Linked DNA regions of Homo sapiens: regions 1, 2 and 3 are each reported to be linked to region 4. The links are microRNA targets in miRTarBase. Many come from high-throughput screens and were not tested one by one. Region 4 holds a microRNA gene; each other region holds the end of a gene's coding sequence.

Region 1 (4,066 bases), not on the chromosome of region 4:
CACTTGGTAATCAAACAGCACAGTGAATAGAGGAACTCTTTGGCATAAGAGGATCATAGGTTCAAGTCCCAGCTCTACCACTTTCTGGCAGTGTAACCACTGGTGAGTTATTCTACCTTCTTGAGTATTTTACCTTACTCATAAAACATGCTAGTCCCCACATCTCAAAGCAGCCAGGAAGATGAAATAGATCAAGTGGTCAACAAATGTTGTTAGGCATATAATTCCTTCTATTTAATAAAACAACTTTAGGGAATGAGATTTACAGAATAATCAAAGTGAGTAAGCTCTCTTTTTCAAGAAAGGGCTGAGATTAAAAGTTAAGTTACTCATTAGAAATTATAAATTTATGAGATAAAAATTGTGTGTAATAGAAATAGGGCTTGCGTCTTCCAGAGACTCTCCATCTCCTGCATTTATGGCGTAATATGGGAAGCCCCAAGGAACCAGCTATTTTGAATCCCTATAACTGTATTTTTCTCTTTTTATACTTTTCAGGCCCTTACCCCAGAGCAAGTGTCATTCTGTGCCACACATATGCAGCAATATATGGACCCACGGGGTCGAAGCCATCTCTCTGGCTATGACTACGTTGGCTTCACCAATTCCTACTTTGGCAACTAATAAGCAGCTCCTCGTGGATCGTAGAAAATCTTAGTGTCGTGGGAAATTTACTGGGGGGCAAAGAGTACAGGCAAATGTGGAAGATAAAGATGGCCTCGTGTGTGTGTGTGTGTGTGTGTGTGTGTGTGTGTGCTTGTGTTTGTGTGCATATTACATTTATTGTAGGATCTTAAAAAATCTCAAGGGTGGGAGATAGAAAGGTTAATAGAGTTGGAGGAGTGGAAGCTATTTTGTATGCAACTAGTCACTGCTGAGGGGTGTCAAAGTTTCTATTTTTATTTGTTCTGTTTTGCACGTCTTTATCATTTTGCTTTATTCCGATTATAGAATAAAGTAATTCTTTTTAAAAATATTTTTTGGGGCAAAGTTAAGTAAAATGTTGAGCTTCTATATTTCTGGGAACTGTACTCATATAAGAGTGGGCAGCTAATTTTACTGTAAAGAAGGGCCATGGTATAGTAGATAAATAAAATCCAAGGCAATTTTCAAACAATTTTTTTAAACTTTGGAATGTGTTTAAATTTAAATTTGAAAATAAAGATATTTGATTTTCTGGGGAACATGAATATTTTAGTTTGTACAATGAAACAACACACAGATCAGCATAACACCTGTTTTCTTCTTGTTTTTTTTCCATACTTCAAAATTATTGTAGATGTTATTACTCTCAGAAAGACAAAATTCCAGCATAGCAGGGCTTTCTCTTGTCCTCCAAGCTCCCGTATTTTCTCTTAAGTTTTAATGTAATAAAAATAATACTTCAATATCCTGTTAAAGTAACAGTTAATAGAATTATTTATAAAATTAAGAATTAATTTTAAAAAAAGAAGAGGTGATGCTATCTTCAAAAATTTTCAGGCCAGGTTTATTCTGAACAGGTTTATATGCCGACATTCTGATTTGATCTATAAAAGGTAATGGTGTCATTTGCTGGTGAGAATTCTTAGATATCTTAATTGCTGTGTATAAAACTGCTAGCGTTCTGCACAAATAGTCCCCACTTACCAATCCATTCATGTTGCCACTTGATTACCATCTTAAGTCTCAGTCCCTTCCTCTGCATAGAAATGAATCTGTGCAGGACAAATCCTGTCATAGGAGCCTTTTTTAAACAAAAAGTTGGTTAAAGCTAAAAAGTTATCATTGATACTAACAACATACAGGTATTTTAGTGATTCTTTTCTTAAATAGTCAAATACTATGGAATATAACAAGCAGAAAGTATTTTCAAAATTAATGTTCACAAATGTCTAAATTGCCTGATTATAAGTTACCAAAAATAGTACAGTTAGAAAAGATATAGGCCATCGAAAATTAGCATTGTTTAATATCACACTTACCACATATGGATAGTCTAAAACTATTTGTGCTGAAAATAATCACAAGCAAAGGTGGATGTGATTCCATTCCCCCAATGCTAACCCTGCCAAAAATTTTCAAGGCCTAAATCAAATTATTAGTCATTTAGTGGGTCAAATGTGTGTACCTGGAAGAAGAGTTTGCCCTTTCTAAGCGCGTAGTCACATACTTAATCAAGAGAGGAAATTTGAATCACCAAACGAGATTTTGAAGACTATTATGTTGTCCCTATCCCAAATCAATTGTTTCAAGGTAGAAACAAATTAGATAGATTCCAAAAACACCTATTTGGAAAAATCCCTCCAAGTGATTTTATACCCTTCCATACTTAAGACTACTACATGTGGAAGTTAGACCTCTAAGTATTACTTAGCAATACTTGAAACATCCTTACTAACCATTCGTCACTGTGCATTTAGTCAATGTTATGCTGGGCAGACTGAATGAACTGGTGAAATGAATTTGCTCACATGGCCTCAGTGCAATGAGGCATTACTTCTTCCAATATTGAGAACTTCAGAGTAGATGGCCTTTCTCCCCTGATGAGGCCCTTTTGGCTATCTGACTAACTCATCTACTTGTCTTCATCCTGTTCTCTTCTCTGAGCTCTAGCTTCCTTCCTCTCAAATTGTTTTCATCAAATTCCAATTAGAGGATGTATTTCTTTCCTGAAAGCATGAAAAAATATGGATTTCTGTCTGAAAAATATCTTCTCGGCCTAAGGTCTTTCCTTGTCTCTCAAGCCATGCCCCACTTCTATCTCACTGCCAAATCCTGTGAATTCTACCTTCTCAAAATCTCATGTTTGTGATTTCCTTCAGTCTCTGAATGTCACTATCCATATTCAAGCCTCTTTGCCTTTTTTTAAGCTGATATCCATGGGTTTCTTGCTGATCTCCTTGCCTCTGGTTTCTCTCTACTGAAATCTATCATCCCCTTTGCTGCTGGATTAATCTTCCTGAATCCCTTCCCAGATGCCTCTCTCTGTTCAACGTTTTACTGTGCCTTATCTCCTATAGACAAAAGGACCATGTCTGAAGCAAGGTATTCAAATTATTTCAACAAGTAAGTCATGACTCAAACTAACTTCTCAGCATCATTTGTGAGTTGTTTCCAGCCCCTCTGAATAACTCACACACATTAAACTAGGCTTATATTGTCTTACCATCAAGCCTTTGGCTATTACATTCTCTCTTCTGAGAATGTACTTTCTCCCCAGTCAGTGCATTCAAAGCTCACCCATCCTTTAGGAACAAGTTCAGATACTATTTAAGACATGAAGTCTTCTCTGATCCTCCACCTAGAGTAAACTCTACCTAAACTAAAAGCCAATATCTTTTTCCTTCACACATTTTAATAGTAGCAACTGGAATTTATTGGACGATCGCTATGATCCAAGGGTTGTGCTAAATTCTTTGTATGCATGATCCTGTTTAGTCACCAACCATTGTAAAGATAAGACTCGGAAGCTGAAAAAAATGTTAAATAACTTACCTAGAGTCACACAGCTAGTAAGTTGAAGAGTTTGGATTCAAACTCCTGCCTGACGGTCTTGTGAGTTCATTACACTTTCTCTAATAATGTCCGCCGCTATATATAACCACATTATATGTGGAAAGTGGAATAGGCAGAATAGATAGTTCTGCAATAGATTCAAAAGAACAGTATCCAATTTGATAAGCGACCCAAATGAGAAAGGTCTTTGACACTCAAGATTCTGAAGCTACCAGGGAACATTAACAGTTATAAAAAAAAATAGGAAGTAAATATATTTTCTGAAATAGAGTGCACCCAGCTTGGAAAATCAATCAAAACAAAAAGGGCAAAGTAACAGAGTCAGAGATAGTGAGGACAACTATATAAAAAGATGATTCCATGTTTTTGCTACTGTCAATAGCACAATGAGGAATGTATAAGCACATGTGCCCCACTGTATATGAAATAATAGTTGAAATTAAAAAAAATAAAAACATAAAAAGATGAAAGACACCCAGTGGGAGTAAAAATGACCCACCTGTTCATTTAACAAAGCTTTAAACTAACCTGTCAAGCTGATATTCCCCAGGTTTCAAATCTTGGAAGA
Region 2 (4,066 bases), not on the chromosome of region 4:
GTTTACGTGACTTTAGGATGAAATATGTGTAACTGCCAGTTGAATAATGATGCAAAGAACACAGGTAGTTTCGTTTGGTAGGTATAGACATGCAGTCTCTTCATTTTCCTTCTCTATACAAATATATACATTGTAATATTTTTGCCAGTATCTTACTAATTCTGTGTTATACCTGAAATACTGGGATGGTGTAATTTCTATTTTTCATCTTTTGAGTCCTTGATTATTATAAGTTAAATATTTTACTTACCTCTCAACATGAATGAGTTCAAATCACATTCATTCCTATAGAAAGTACCAATTAAAGATTTAGAAAGGATACATTTCCAGTTATTAAAACTAAAACCCAAGTATAAATTTAAGATCCAGTTTATTATACAGCCATATCCAGCTCTGTCAGAATTAAGTTTTAGTTCATGCCCGTTATCATTCAGCAGTTGAACAGTTAAATTCATCATCTGAACTGTAATCATTATTTCCCAAAAGATTATACTGTCACCAATTAAAACTTACCTAAGCGATCACTCAAGAATGGTACAGATGTGTGGAGTATGCCAATACCTAAGGTAAAAAAGTAGATTATCTGGTTTTTCATAACGTTTAGCAACCGTCTTTTTCAAACTTTTAGCAACTGTCTTGTAATTCCTTCCCACAGATCTAACAATAGTCCTGTGAGTAAAGTAAAACCACAGAGTTACTCTATGAGGCGTTTCCAACGATGTGCAGGCTACAGGAAAAGCCCCATCGGGATAGACCTCAACCACTATTTACAAGGTTTTGATTTTTTTTTAAAGACACAGGATCTGCCATGTCTTTTAAAAATCGTGTGATTCTTGCTGAATCACTTGAGCCCAGGGGTTCGAGGCTACAGTGAGATGTGGCAGGATCACATCTCACTGTAGCCTCAAACCGCTGGGCTCAAGTGTTTCTCCTGCCTTAGCCTCCAGAGTAGCTGGGGACCACAGGCACCACTGTGTCCAGCTAGTATTTATACACATAAATAACAAAGTCTAACACTCCATAGGAAAGAAATTATGAGCAGAAACTGCAATATGCTCTTACAATATTGCCAACTGCAGAAACTTCCTACTACGTTAATCACAAAAACAATAATTTCACAATCACGTTGTGCTTAGGAGCCAGAGGAATGATAAATAAAAAGTAACATCAAGTAGCTCCTTTACATGAACCAAAGGAAAAAGATTTAAACTTAAGATTTAAGTTTAAAGTCTAACTGTTGTTATGAACTTCAGTATTGCAACAGAGGATGTTGTTTTCCCAATTCGAAGATTTCAGCAAATTTTAATTCTTGGCTCAAAATTAATTGTCATCCATTATAAAATACAGGAATATAATGTGCCTGTAAGTTACGACTTTGGCATTATATAACTTTTAATCAAACTCTACATCATTCAAATTTATGAATTCTTATGACCTGTGTAATCATCTTTTATTATACTATATTTTGCATTAAACCATAAAATCCTCTGCCTCATTTTAGATTGTGCATTAATTCAAAATAATGCTGTAGGCTTCAAGTAGGAAATCCAAAGTTCTGATTATTGCTACAAACTAACAAATTCAGGACCCTCTAATGCTTGCAACTAAAATGAATCTGACACATCACTATAAAATGTGTGAATCTAGGATTCTTCTTTTCAGAAATCAGTATAAATGGGAATTAAAAGCATGGTAGAAATGTCCCTGAATAAAATGAAACTTGCTCTGACAACATACTGTTTCCTACACATAAACAAATATGATGTGAAAACTCAAATTGAGACATACCTTTAACTCCAGACACCATGTTCTCAAGATAAAAGCCTTTAAAACAAAAAGCCATTGTGTATATCATCAACATGAAATTGGAATGCAAAATTAATACTGCTGAGGATTTCCCTCATATCCCATGCTGTTTATCTATTCTACAGGCCTGGAATCAACCTTTTTTTCTTAAGAGACAGGGTCTGTCTTTGTTACTCAGGCTGGAGTACAGTGGTGCCATCAAAGCTCAGTGCAGCCTCCAACTCTGCCTCAGCCTCCCCCCTTTCTGAGTAACTCCAACTACAGGCACATGCCCCAGTACCCAGCTAATTTTTAAATTTTTGTGGAGATGTGTTTCTTACTTTCTTGCCTAGGCTGGTCTTGAACTCCTGGTTTCAAGCAATACTCCCACCTTGGTGTGGGGATTGCAGGCTTGACCCATTGCACCTGGCCTGGAACCAACCTTTATGGCTATCAATACTCCCATCAATCAACTGTCTCAGGTATCATAATATCCCTTCTTATATGTATCAAAACTCATACTGAACAATGAGTTCTGGGTTGCAAAAGAGGATTTATTTTTTGCACCTATCTGTAAGTCTTTGTCCACGTTAAACAAAAACATACATAAGTGCAGTCCCAAAATGCACTACATAGCAGAGTAGTCAGCTCTATCGTGGTGATCAAAATAATGAACATCGGGGTAATGACTGGTTCTCCCCAGGTATACATGTTGAATAAATGTGTATGCCTTTTCTTGAACTAATAAAAAGTGAAAATGGTAGTTAAAAGTAGTATTAGGCCAGGTGCCATGGCTCACACCTATAATCCCAGCATTTTGGGAGGCCAAGGCAGGCGGATCGCCTGAGGTCAGGAGTTCGAGACCATGGTGAAAGCCTGTCTCTACTAAAAAAACAAAAACTAGCTGGGTGTGCTGGCTAACGCCTGTAATCCCAGCTACTAAGGAGGCTGAGGCAGAATCGCTTGAACCCGGGAGATGGAGGTTGCAGTAAGCCAAGACTGCGGCCATTGCACTACAGCCTGGGTGACAGATCGAGACTCTGTCTAAAAAAAATAGTATTAAAGATACTCTAAATTTGGAAAGGGAAATGAGGTTATTACAATACTAAGCATCTGACAGGTCACTTGTCATGGCTGAACAAAGCTGGGATAAAATTACAGCATTTCAAATCCCCTCTTCAAGATGGTTGGGTGTCAAGTTACTTTAAGATTTTCTTTTCAAAATTAAAATCACTACATTTCATTGTTTCAATACTCACAGGACACCTGTAAGCTCTTATTCAGAAATCAAATGACAATTTCTCAAATTTTTCTATGTATTTTCTCTGGTGTTTTAATGGTTTTTTTTCTAATTATTACTACTTCACAAGTTTCTTTCACAAACTTCTTCACAGGGTTAAAAATTTTTTTTCTTGTTATAAAGTTCTGGGTTTCAGAATTTCTTCACCACCAGACTGGTACATATATCCACATTTATCTTTATTCATTTCTATGAAGTCGTTTTTTCTATATGCTTCACCTTTGACATTCATGATCCTGTCACATTTTCAGGCCTCTCTGTCCAGTATTTTTGGCTTTTGTAGCTCTCTTTTTAGACAAAGCAGCTTCTTCAGTAATATCCTCTTCTTCTAAGTATACACTCAGTCTTACAGGGAATTCAGAACTTACTATGAAACTATCCCCCTGCATAAAACAAACAAAAAATCATGGATTAAGCAATAACTCAAATAGTTTAGTAATTACATATAGCTGAATGCCCTGGATTACTTCAGATAACCTAGAGACTACATGTAGATGTTAAAAATCCAAATTAACATTGCTTATTTTTTCATTTGACATCCTAACTAGCAATAATATGTATCAGAATGCTACTTATTAAAAATAGTACTGAAAACCCCATGTTCTTTATCAAGTCTCTAAAAAATTATTTTCCTTCTTGCATTTCCTGCAGTAAACTTATAGAGCTTTTCAAAAGTTAAATGAAGTGTAAGAGAAAAACTAAATATAATTCCTTCTGTATCAACCAACTCCTGCCTTCCCAAAATGGAATAGGAAAAAAATAAGTCACTTACTGCCAATTTGATATCACATTCGTTATCTTCAAGATGTGTTGCATCCTCATCCTCTGCTCTGTAATATTAAAATTTATCATCGAGATGACAGAATCTTCGATGACCTAATTAGTTGTATATTCCACTCTGAAATATAACTGAAACTGCAATACTAGTCAAAGGAAACACAAAATTTGAGAATTTTGTGTTCTGGAGAATTCTAGATGAAC
Region 3 (4,066 bases), not on the chromosome of region 4:
GCACCCAGGCTCCTTCATCACAAAACTCTACCATCCTTAAAATGTCTCCCTCATCCTCTTGATTGAGAAAGGCTGATCCTCACCACGTCCATGTTCTAGCTAGGGGAAAGGGAGAGAAAGAGGAAGGCAGAGGGCATATGCTTCTTTCCCAGAGCATGACCAAGAGGTTACACATATCACTTCCCTTTACATCTCATTAGCCAGAACTTTGTCTCATGGCCTCACCTAGCTGCAAGGGAAGCTGAGAAATGCAGTCTTTTTTCTGGGTGGCTATATGCCCTGCTAAAATAAGGGGGAAAATAGATATAGGGTCAATTAGCAATCTGCCACATGGAGTTGTTCTACCTGGGGTCTTTACCTTGAGCATTTGGAACTCTGCAGACTGATGTTCTTGGATGGGAATAGGATGACTCCATTGTGTTTCTCTGTTGCAGATGAACCCGAATGGCCCAGCCTGGTGCTGGTGGATGTTAGCAGTTCTTCCCTTGGAAAGCCGAGCTCAGCTCCCCTTCCTAGCAATGAGGTCCTTAAAGGACAGACTGAATGGTATTCGACGAGTCCTGGCCTTCATATCCCGAAACCAAAACTAGTGAGTGGATTGCCGAAGAGGAGCTCCCACCTTCCCCACTGCCGTCGGGGGGAGTCTTCTTGTAAATATATCTAATTGCAATAATATCTTAACAGAAGGGGGTGTCAAACAGAGGCATCAGCCTGCTGTTGATCACAGAGAGAAATTGAGTAGAAAGACCAAAAGAATGTGACCTATTTGAAACTTTCTGTCTTAAGATGCTTCTTGACATGCTGCATAACTACATAAACAGCAGAGGTGTTTAAGAGCCCAGAAAAACATAATTTGATTTTAACATTAAAATTTCCAAAAGTTTAAAGTGGTTTTGCTTTAATATTCTTTCTTTCATAGATCAATGACTGTGTGGTTGAAATGTGAAAACAAAGATACTAATAATGTTGCTGTATAATTTCACTGACTTGAGGTCTCATTCCAAATGGTTCAGGTTTTATAGAGCATTGTGTAAAATAATGTTCATACTTCTTTCTGTTTTAATAATTTATTTTTTGCACTACTGTATCCTTTTTTCTACATGTATGTTTGTAACTATTTAAGCGTACATTGCTGAAAAGTCCATTGCTTTATTTATTGATGTGGTTTACCATGTACCTAGGGGGAAATAACAATACTAGAAGTGTGCAGTTTTTGCTTTTATCTTTTTTTTACTACAATGACACTAGTTCTTAGACCATTTCCGTATCTATCCAAATGGATGCTTAAAAGAAGTTCAGAATGATGCTAAGATCATCTGTCTTCAGAGTCCACTTTTTTTTTTCAGTTTGAACTAAACAATATAAAATACTTAAGGGATTTGGCCTAGATTATGGTATATGCCAAGGTAAAGTAAAATAATTCATTTTCTGTGTGTAATACAGAACAAAGCTGAAAGAATTATTTTTATTATAGGCATTTACTTCAGCAATCTAATTGTACGTGTATCTAATTTTTCCCCAGTGCAGTTAGGAATCGGATTTTGGGCAGGATCATAATTAACTCTTCAGAGGAAATGGTGTTCAGTTTAGCACATCACAGTCATGCCCAACTAGCCTCCATAACCCACCTCTCCCCGGGGTTCTGAGGATCAAGACCTGGACAGAAACACTTGATAAGGACTTTTTATTATTAAAATGTAAATAAGACAAATAGAGTAGAACCCTATAAAAATCTTTTTAAAGGAACCAGATGGCCGGGCACGGTGGCTCACGCCTGTAATCCCAGCACTTTGGGAGGCCGAGGCAGGCGGATCACTTGAGGTCAGGAGTTCGAGAGCAGCCTAACTAACATGATGAAACCCTGTCTCTACTAAAAATGGATACAAAATTAGCCAGGCTTGGTGGTGTATGCCTGTAATCCCAGCTACTTGGGAGGCTGAGGCAGGAGAATCACATGAACCTGGGAGATGGAGGTTGCAGTGAGCCGAGATTGCACCACTGCACTCCAGCCTGGGCAACGAGCAAACCTGCGTCTCAAAAAAAAAAAAAAAAAAAAAAAAAGGGAACCAGATAATCTATTATTTTACCTAAGTACTGCCTTTGCTTCTAGTTGCATGGGTGAAATATTTCAATGTATGGGGAGAATATAGGGTGAGGAGTAAGAGTAAGCCCTGATTTAGCTTGCTTAGTGCTAGTTTGAGTCCTTCAGTGGCAGGACAGCCTGTAAAGTACCACAAGTATGGGAGTGTTATAATGGCAGAGTGAAACGATTAGAGCAGGGAGGAAGTGAATTGTGCCATTAGTACCTTCATGCAAATTATACCATGTGATTTTGGACAGTGAATGATTTTTGCATCATTCATTCACAGCCCATCACTCTGTTAAGGTGAGAGTGTAATTCTTACTTCTCCCATCACCACCTGTAGCTAGAAACAGGAAAGGGAGAATGAGATGATCCAGACAACATAAAAAAGATGCATGTAAGCAGAAACCAGATGGTCTTTTCTGCACTCACTTAATGGACATTATGTTGCCAGAGTGTTGTGTTTATCAGATTTGATGTTTGGAGCTAGTCTGGGCAGGTGAAGAACAGAAATAGGCGGAAGTATAGGCATTATTTCTGCGCAAGCAAACTCCACAAAGCTCAGGGAGCAGAAAAGACTCCCCCTCCCACCTGGTTCCCAGACCATGTGGTCATAACACAATCCTAATAGTTTCTGGTTATCTAGTGTAAATGCAACAAAGAAAAAGGCCCTAAGCTTCTCTACTTATTAGATATATTATTTTTGGCAATTGATTTAACTTTTGCCAACCCTCAGTTTTCTAATCTATGAAATGATAGTGATAAGTTCTGCATATAGGGTTGTTACGAAAATTAAATGAGATAATGTGTAAATCAATTAGCACAGTGTCTCACACCTAGAATGCACTCAAGAAATAATAGCTACTATTAGATTAGTCATAGTTATAGAATATCATCAAGGGCCTACATTTGTATAAAACACTGCCTTTACACACAATATCCACTTGAAACCCCTTTAAACTTAGTTGGGGGAATACATACCACTGATTTTTGGACCCATAATTTGATGATTTACAGATAATTCTTTTGGGAATTAAATGTGTGTGAAAGTGAAATAACTGGAGAACAAATGAGGGTCAGAGATAGGGATCAATCCTATACCAGAAATTTTTTTCCTGCTTCAATAAGGGCTAGAAGGTAGTGCCCTATGTAGGTCTAGGATTTCTTTCTTCCTTCCTTCCTTCCTTTCTTTTTCTTTTGTTCCCTCCCTCCCTCCCTCTCTCTCTCTTTCCCTCCCTTCCTTCCTTCCTTTCTTTTTCCTTTCCTTTCCTTTCCTTTCTTTCTTTTGTGTGTGTGTGTGTGTGTGCGAGTCTGAGTCTCACTCTGTCACCCAGGCTGGAGTGCAGTGGCTCGATCTCAGTTCACTGCAACCTCCGCCTCCCAGGTTCAAGTGATTCCCTTGTCTCAGCCCCCCAAGTAGCTGGGATTACAGGCACGCACCACCACGCCTGGCTAATTTTTGTAGTTTTAGTAGAGATGGGGTTTCACCATGTTGGTCAAGCTAGTCTCGAACTCCTGACCTCAGGTGATCCATCTGCCTGGGCCTCCCAAAGTGCTGGGATTACGGGCGTGGGTGTGAGCCACCGCACCCAGCCTAGGATTTCTGATAGAATGGAAGCCTTAAGTTCTAGCTCCATTAGAATAACCAACTTTTCACTCCCTGTTCTCCAAAATGTATTGAGAACCTTACCCATCCCAGATGATGAGAGTTTACAATCTGTGACTTCTGTTCTTAGTTGATAGTATTTCTTTATGTTGCCCAAAGTAACAGATTCAACAAAAAATGTACTGAGATCCCCATGTACCAGGTACTGAGCCAAGTGATCTCACATACCTGAGCTCATTACATCATTTATTTCTCATACCAACCCTGCGAGAGCAGTTATTATCCCCATATTATGAATGAGAAAACTGAGCCTCCACTATGTTAAATATTTTGTCTAGTTGCAAGGCAGGATGCAAGGCTAAGCTTTGGCTTTCTTT
Region 4 (4,066 bases):
ACCCCGTCTCTACTAAAAATACAAAAAATTCGCCAGGCGTGGTGGCAGGCGCCTGTAGTCTCAGCTTCTCGGGAGGCTAAGACAGGAGAATGGCATGAACCCAGGAGGCGGAGCTTGCAGTGAGCCTAGATGGCACCACTGCACTCCAGCCTGGGCGACAGAGCAAGACTCCATCTCAAAAAAAAAAAAAAAAAAAACCTGTCCTTTCTCCCCAGCGATTTTCTTAATGGTGTCTGGGAACTCATCTGCTGCCTCAAAGCCGCTTCTCCTGTTATCTTGACATTTTTAAAACCAAACGTCTTTCTGAAACTCAAACCATCCTTTGCTGGCACTAAATTCTTCAGCTTAAGATCCTTCACTTTAAGTTGTCTTAAAATGACTTTACTCTTTCTGAAAAGAGACTGTCTATCTGGTATACTACCAACTAGTGTAATAACTGGGACAGTGCCTGGCACATAGTAGATATTCAATAAAATATTTGTTAAATAATTTACAGGCACCTTTTATATTTGAAAAAAATTATGTTTAAGTTTTTATCTGGAAAATGTATGTGATGAGGGGGACCCTGAAGGACAATTCCTTAATATAATTGATAAATACAAATATATGTTATATATTTCTCAAGTGAATGCAAACGGATTTATCTTGGTTACATGTTAAAAATTGTGCAGGTCAGGATGGGCGCAGTGGCTCACCCCTGTAATCTCAGCACTTTGGGAGGCCAAGGCAGGTGGATCACCTGAGGTCAGGAGTTCAAGACCAGCCTGACTAACATGGTGAAACCCTGTCCGTCTCAAAAAATAAAAAAAAAGTGCAGGTCAGGCATGGTGGCTCTTGCCTGTAATTTTAGGACTTTGGGAGGCCAAGGCAGGAGGATTGCTTGAGGCCAGGAGTTCAAGACATCCTAGGCAACATAGCAAGACCTTGTCTCTACAATAAAATAAAAATGTAAAGAGCTGTGCATGGTGGTGTGTGCACTTGTAGTCCCAGCTACTTGGGAGGCTAAGGTGGACTGATCACTTAAGCCCAGGAGGTCAAGGCTGCAGTGAGCTACGATCATGGCACTGTACCCCATCCTGGGCAACAGAGTACCCTGAGATGAGAAGTAAAACAAATCCTGTAGCTCTTGATCTTCCTATTCCCTACCTATTTCCGGTCCATTTACCAGGTAAGGAAGTATACTCCTAAAGTTTCCACTTACTCAGATGTAGAAATGAATTTCTTTTTCTCTAAAAGATACGGAAACTACTCTCTTAAAAAAAGAAAAAATAAAAATTTAAAAAACGTTGTGCAGAAACTTGAGACAATAAGGAGCAGAGTTATATGTGAAATCCAGGTTGCTTAGATAGGAGATTAGCTACATATATTTTTTATTAATGGGAAAAATACTCAGAAAAATTTCATATGGAATGTGACCCTGTGCTTTGTATAAGTAATTAGATATTAGAATGGAAGAGCAAATTTTAGTGCTTTGGTTGTGTACATCACCTTACTATTCTGTAATAGATGTAACTTTAGCATAGTCATTTTAATGATGAGAACATGGGGCAAAAAAGATTGTCCAGGCTTGAATGGTGGCACCACTAGAGTGGTGGCAATTTTCTGATATCTTTTAGAGAAAAGGAATTTCATTTCTACATCTGAGAAAGTGGAAACTAGGAGTTTCTTCCTTACCTGGTAAATGGGCCAGAAACAGGGAATAGGAAGATTAAGAGCTATGGGATTTGTTTTATTTCTCATCTCAGGGTACCAAATTAACTCATCATCCCAAGGATTCATATTTTAGAATTACTTAAGGATTCATATTTTAGAATTACTGTATCAAATGATATCCAACTCTAAGAGAACTTCTAGTATGAAGATCAATGTTGAAAGTAAAATATTTAGATTATTAATAACAAATTATTTAAGGGAGAATTAGTTTGTTTAGAGCTTTTTTTCTTAACTATATTTGGAATTAAAATGTCTTAATTAGATATTTAATAAAATTAACATTTAGAATTAAAGTATTTTTCTTTAAAAGTATATTTGCATTTTGCTAGCTTAAGTTTATTGAAACTGAGCTCTTGTATGTCATTTCATGTTTTTCCCTTGATGTGAAGTCTTACCTATTTGATGAAGATGTCTTTTGAAAGGTGTACTGCAAGGAACAAAATGTTTGTAAATTCTCCTTTTACCAAGGTAAAGATCAAATTTTATAAATTTACTTGTTTGTTTATACAAGGAAAAATAACTTCATATATTGAATATATTCAAAAGTTTAAGCATTTAGTTGTATTGCCCTGTTAAGTTGGCATAGCAAATAAATGCTTTTCTTTTCCTCATTTTATTCTTTGTGTTTCCTAACCTATAGCACTGTGCTGGGCACAGAATGGACTTCAGTTAAGTTTTTGATGTAGAAATGTTTTATTATTCTACTTAAAATCTCCTTAAAAATAATTATGCATATTACATCAATGTTATAATGTTTAAACATAGATTTTTTTACATGCATTCTTTTTTTCCTGAAAGAAAATATTTTTTATATTCTTTAGGCGCGAATGTGTGTTTAAAAAAAATAAAACCTTGGAGTAAAGTAGCAGCACATAATGGTTTGTGGATTTTGAAAAGGTGCAGGCCATATTGTGCTGCCTCAAAAATACAAGGATCTGATCTTCTGAAGAAAATATATTTCTTTTTATTCATAGCTCTTATGATAGCAATGTCAGCAGTGCCTTAGCAGCACGTAAATATTGGCGTTAAGATTCTAAAATTATCTCCAGTATTAACTGTGCTGCTGAAGTAAGGTTGACCATACTCTACAGTTGTGTTTTAATGTATATTAATGTTACTAATGTGTTTTCAGTTTTATTGATAGTCTTTTCAGTATTATTGATAATCTTGTTATTTTTAGTATGATTCTGTAAAAATGAATTAATACTAATTTTTCAGATGTATCATCTCTTAAAATACTGTAATTGCAATTTAATAATTGTATTGAATGCCATCAAGTTTTTTTAAAAAGCTTATGCAGCATTAGAGGAATTTATTTTAATGCACATTTATATTCAACATAGACATTAATTCAGATTTTTACTTGGGATAAAACAAATTCTAGTTTTCCCTTTGTTTTGAAATTACTTTTAAAATATGTCTTTACAGATAAATATAAAATATATTAAGCATTTTGAACAGAGCTTAGAAGACAATATTTAGTACTGTTTCTGAATATTTCTTTATATCTGAAGGGGAAAAGCCATCAAAATATGTGAATTAAATACCTAAAATTCTGGTTGTCAAAACGTCACACTTAACCATAACTTTAAAGGTAGAAAAACCCTTACAAGTGACCAACCCACTCATTGGATAGCTAAGGAAACACAAAACTCAAATAATTTGCTACACATCACAGATTGGGGTCTTAGTCTTATGTCTTCTAACTTTATAATGGTATACTATTTTTTTCATGTTTTTATTAAAATGTTTTCTTAAATCCTTAGCCAAAGATTTTTGTTTGATAAGTCAAAAATAAGGTCTTGTTTACTTTGTTTACTTTTTTGTATTCAAGATTTAACTCAGAGTAAGACCAAATTATCATTGTAGTTTTATTGATATAAAATGTCAACATAATTTAATTTTTTTTTTTACTTTTTTGTATTTTTAAAATTTTTTATTAAAAATAAAAGTAGACAGCCAGGTGCGGTGGCTCACGCACTTTGGGAAGCCGAGGCAGGCGGATCACCAGGTCAGGAGATCAAGACCATCCTGGCTAACACGGTGAAACCCCATCTCTATTAAAAATACAAAAAAAATAGCCAGGCGTGGTGGCGGGCGCCTGTAGTCCCAGCTACTCGGGAGGCTGAGGCAGGAGAATGGCATGAACCTGGGAGGCGGAGCTTCCAGTGAGCTGAGATCGCACCACTGCACTCCAGCCTGGGTGACAGAGGGAGACTCTGTCTCAACAAAAAAAAAAAAAGAAAAGAAAAGTAGAGCTGGGCACAGTGGCTCAAGCCTGTAATCCCAGCACTTTGGGAGGCCGAGGAGGGTGGATGACGTGAGGTCAGGAGTTCGAGACCAACCTGACCGA

Evidence for each region. Region 4 holds the annotated microRNA hsa-miR-15a-3p (CAGGCCAUAUUGUGCUGCCUCA, at 2,614-2,635, shown strand). A microRNA usually pairs through its seed, bases 2 to 8, with sites in the 3' UTR of a target mRNA and lowers its output. Matches are read on the target gene's strand: a 7mer-m8 pairs with bases 2 to 8, a 7mer-A1 pairs with bases 2 to 7 and ends in A, and an 8mer does both.
Region 1: the mRNA of SPTA1 is a reported target of hsa-miR-15a-3p. Seed matches in the 3' UTR shown: 7mer-m8 at 714-720.
Region 2: the mRNA of TAF1D is a reported target of hsa-miR-15a-3p. The part of its 3' UTR that is shown has no 7-base or 8-base seed match.
Region 3: miRTarBase lists LONRF3 as a target of hsa-miR-15a-3p. The part of its 3' UTR that is shown has no 7-base or 8-base seed match.

Annotation. Positions count from the first base shown.
Region 1 is chr1:158,607,822-158,611,887 of GRCh38, reverse strand. It overlaps SPTA1 (spectrin alpha, erythrocytic 1), which reads left to right. Exons shown (of 52, transcript NM_003126.4): 52 at 499-1,184. The coding sequence ends at 624. It overlaps OR10Z1 (olfactory receptor family 10 subfamily Z member 1), which reads right to left. Exons shown (of 2, transcript NM_001004478.2): 2 at 1-4,066. Among named protein-coding and RNA genes, the nearest start is that of OR10Z1, 4.6 kb to the right of the region's middle.
Region 2 is chr11:93,732,837-93,736,902 of GRCh38, forward strand. TAF1D (TATA-box binding protein associated factor, RNA polymerase I subunit D) reads right to left here. Exons shown (of 6, transcript NM_024116.4): 5 at 3,858-3,915; 6 at 2,731-3,468. The coding sequence ends at 3,325. It overlaps SNORD5 (small nucleolar RNA, C/D box 5), which reads right to left and starts at 464; the gene lies at 392-464. SNORA18 (small nucleolar RNA, H/ACA box 18) reads right to left here and starts at 761; the gene lies at 630-761. It overlaps MIR1304 (microRNA 1304), which reads right to left and starts at 928; the gene lies at 838-928. It also overlaps SNORA40.
Region 3 is chrX:119,017,101-119,021,166 of GRCh38, forward strand. It overlaps LONRF3 (LON peptidase N-terminal domain and ring finger 3), which reads left to right. Exons shown (of 11, transcript NM_001031855.3): 11 at 435-1,255. The coding sequence ends at 590. Among named protein-coding and RNA genes, the nearest start is that of LONRF3, 45 kb to the left of the region's middle.
Region 4 is chr13:50,047,699-50,051,764 of GRCh38, reverse strand. It overlaps MIR15A (microRNA 15a), which reads left to right and starts at 2,564; the gene lies at 2,564-2,646. DLEU2 (deleted in lymphocytic leukemia 2) reads left to right here. Exons shown (of 14, transcript NR_152566.1): 6 at 2,103-2,181. MIR16-1 (microRNA 16-1) reads left to right here and starts at 2,704; the gene lies at 2,704-2,792.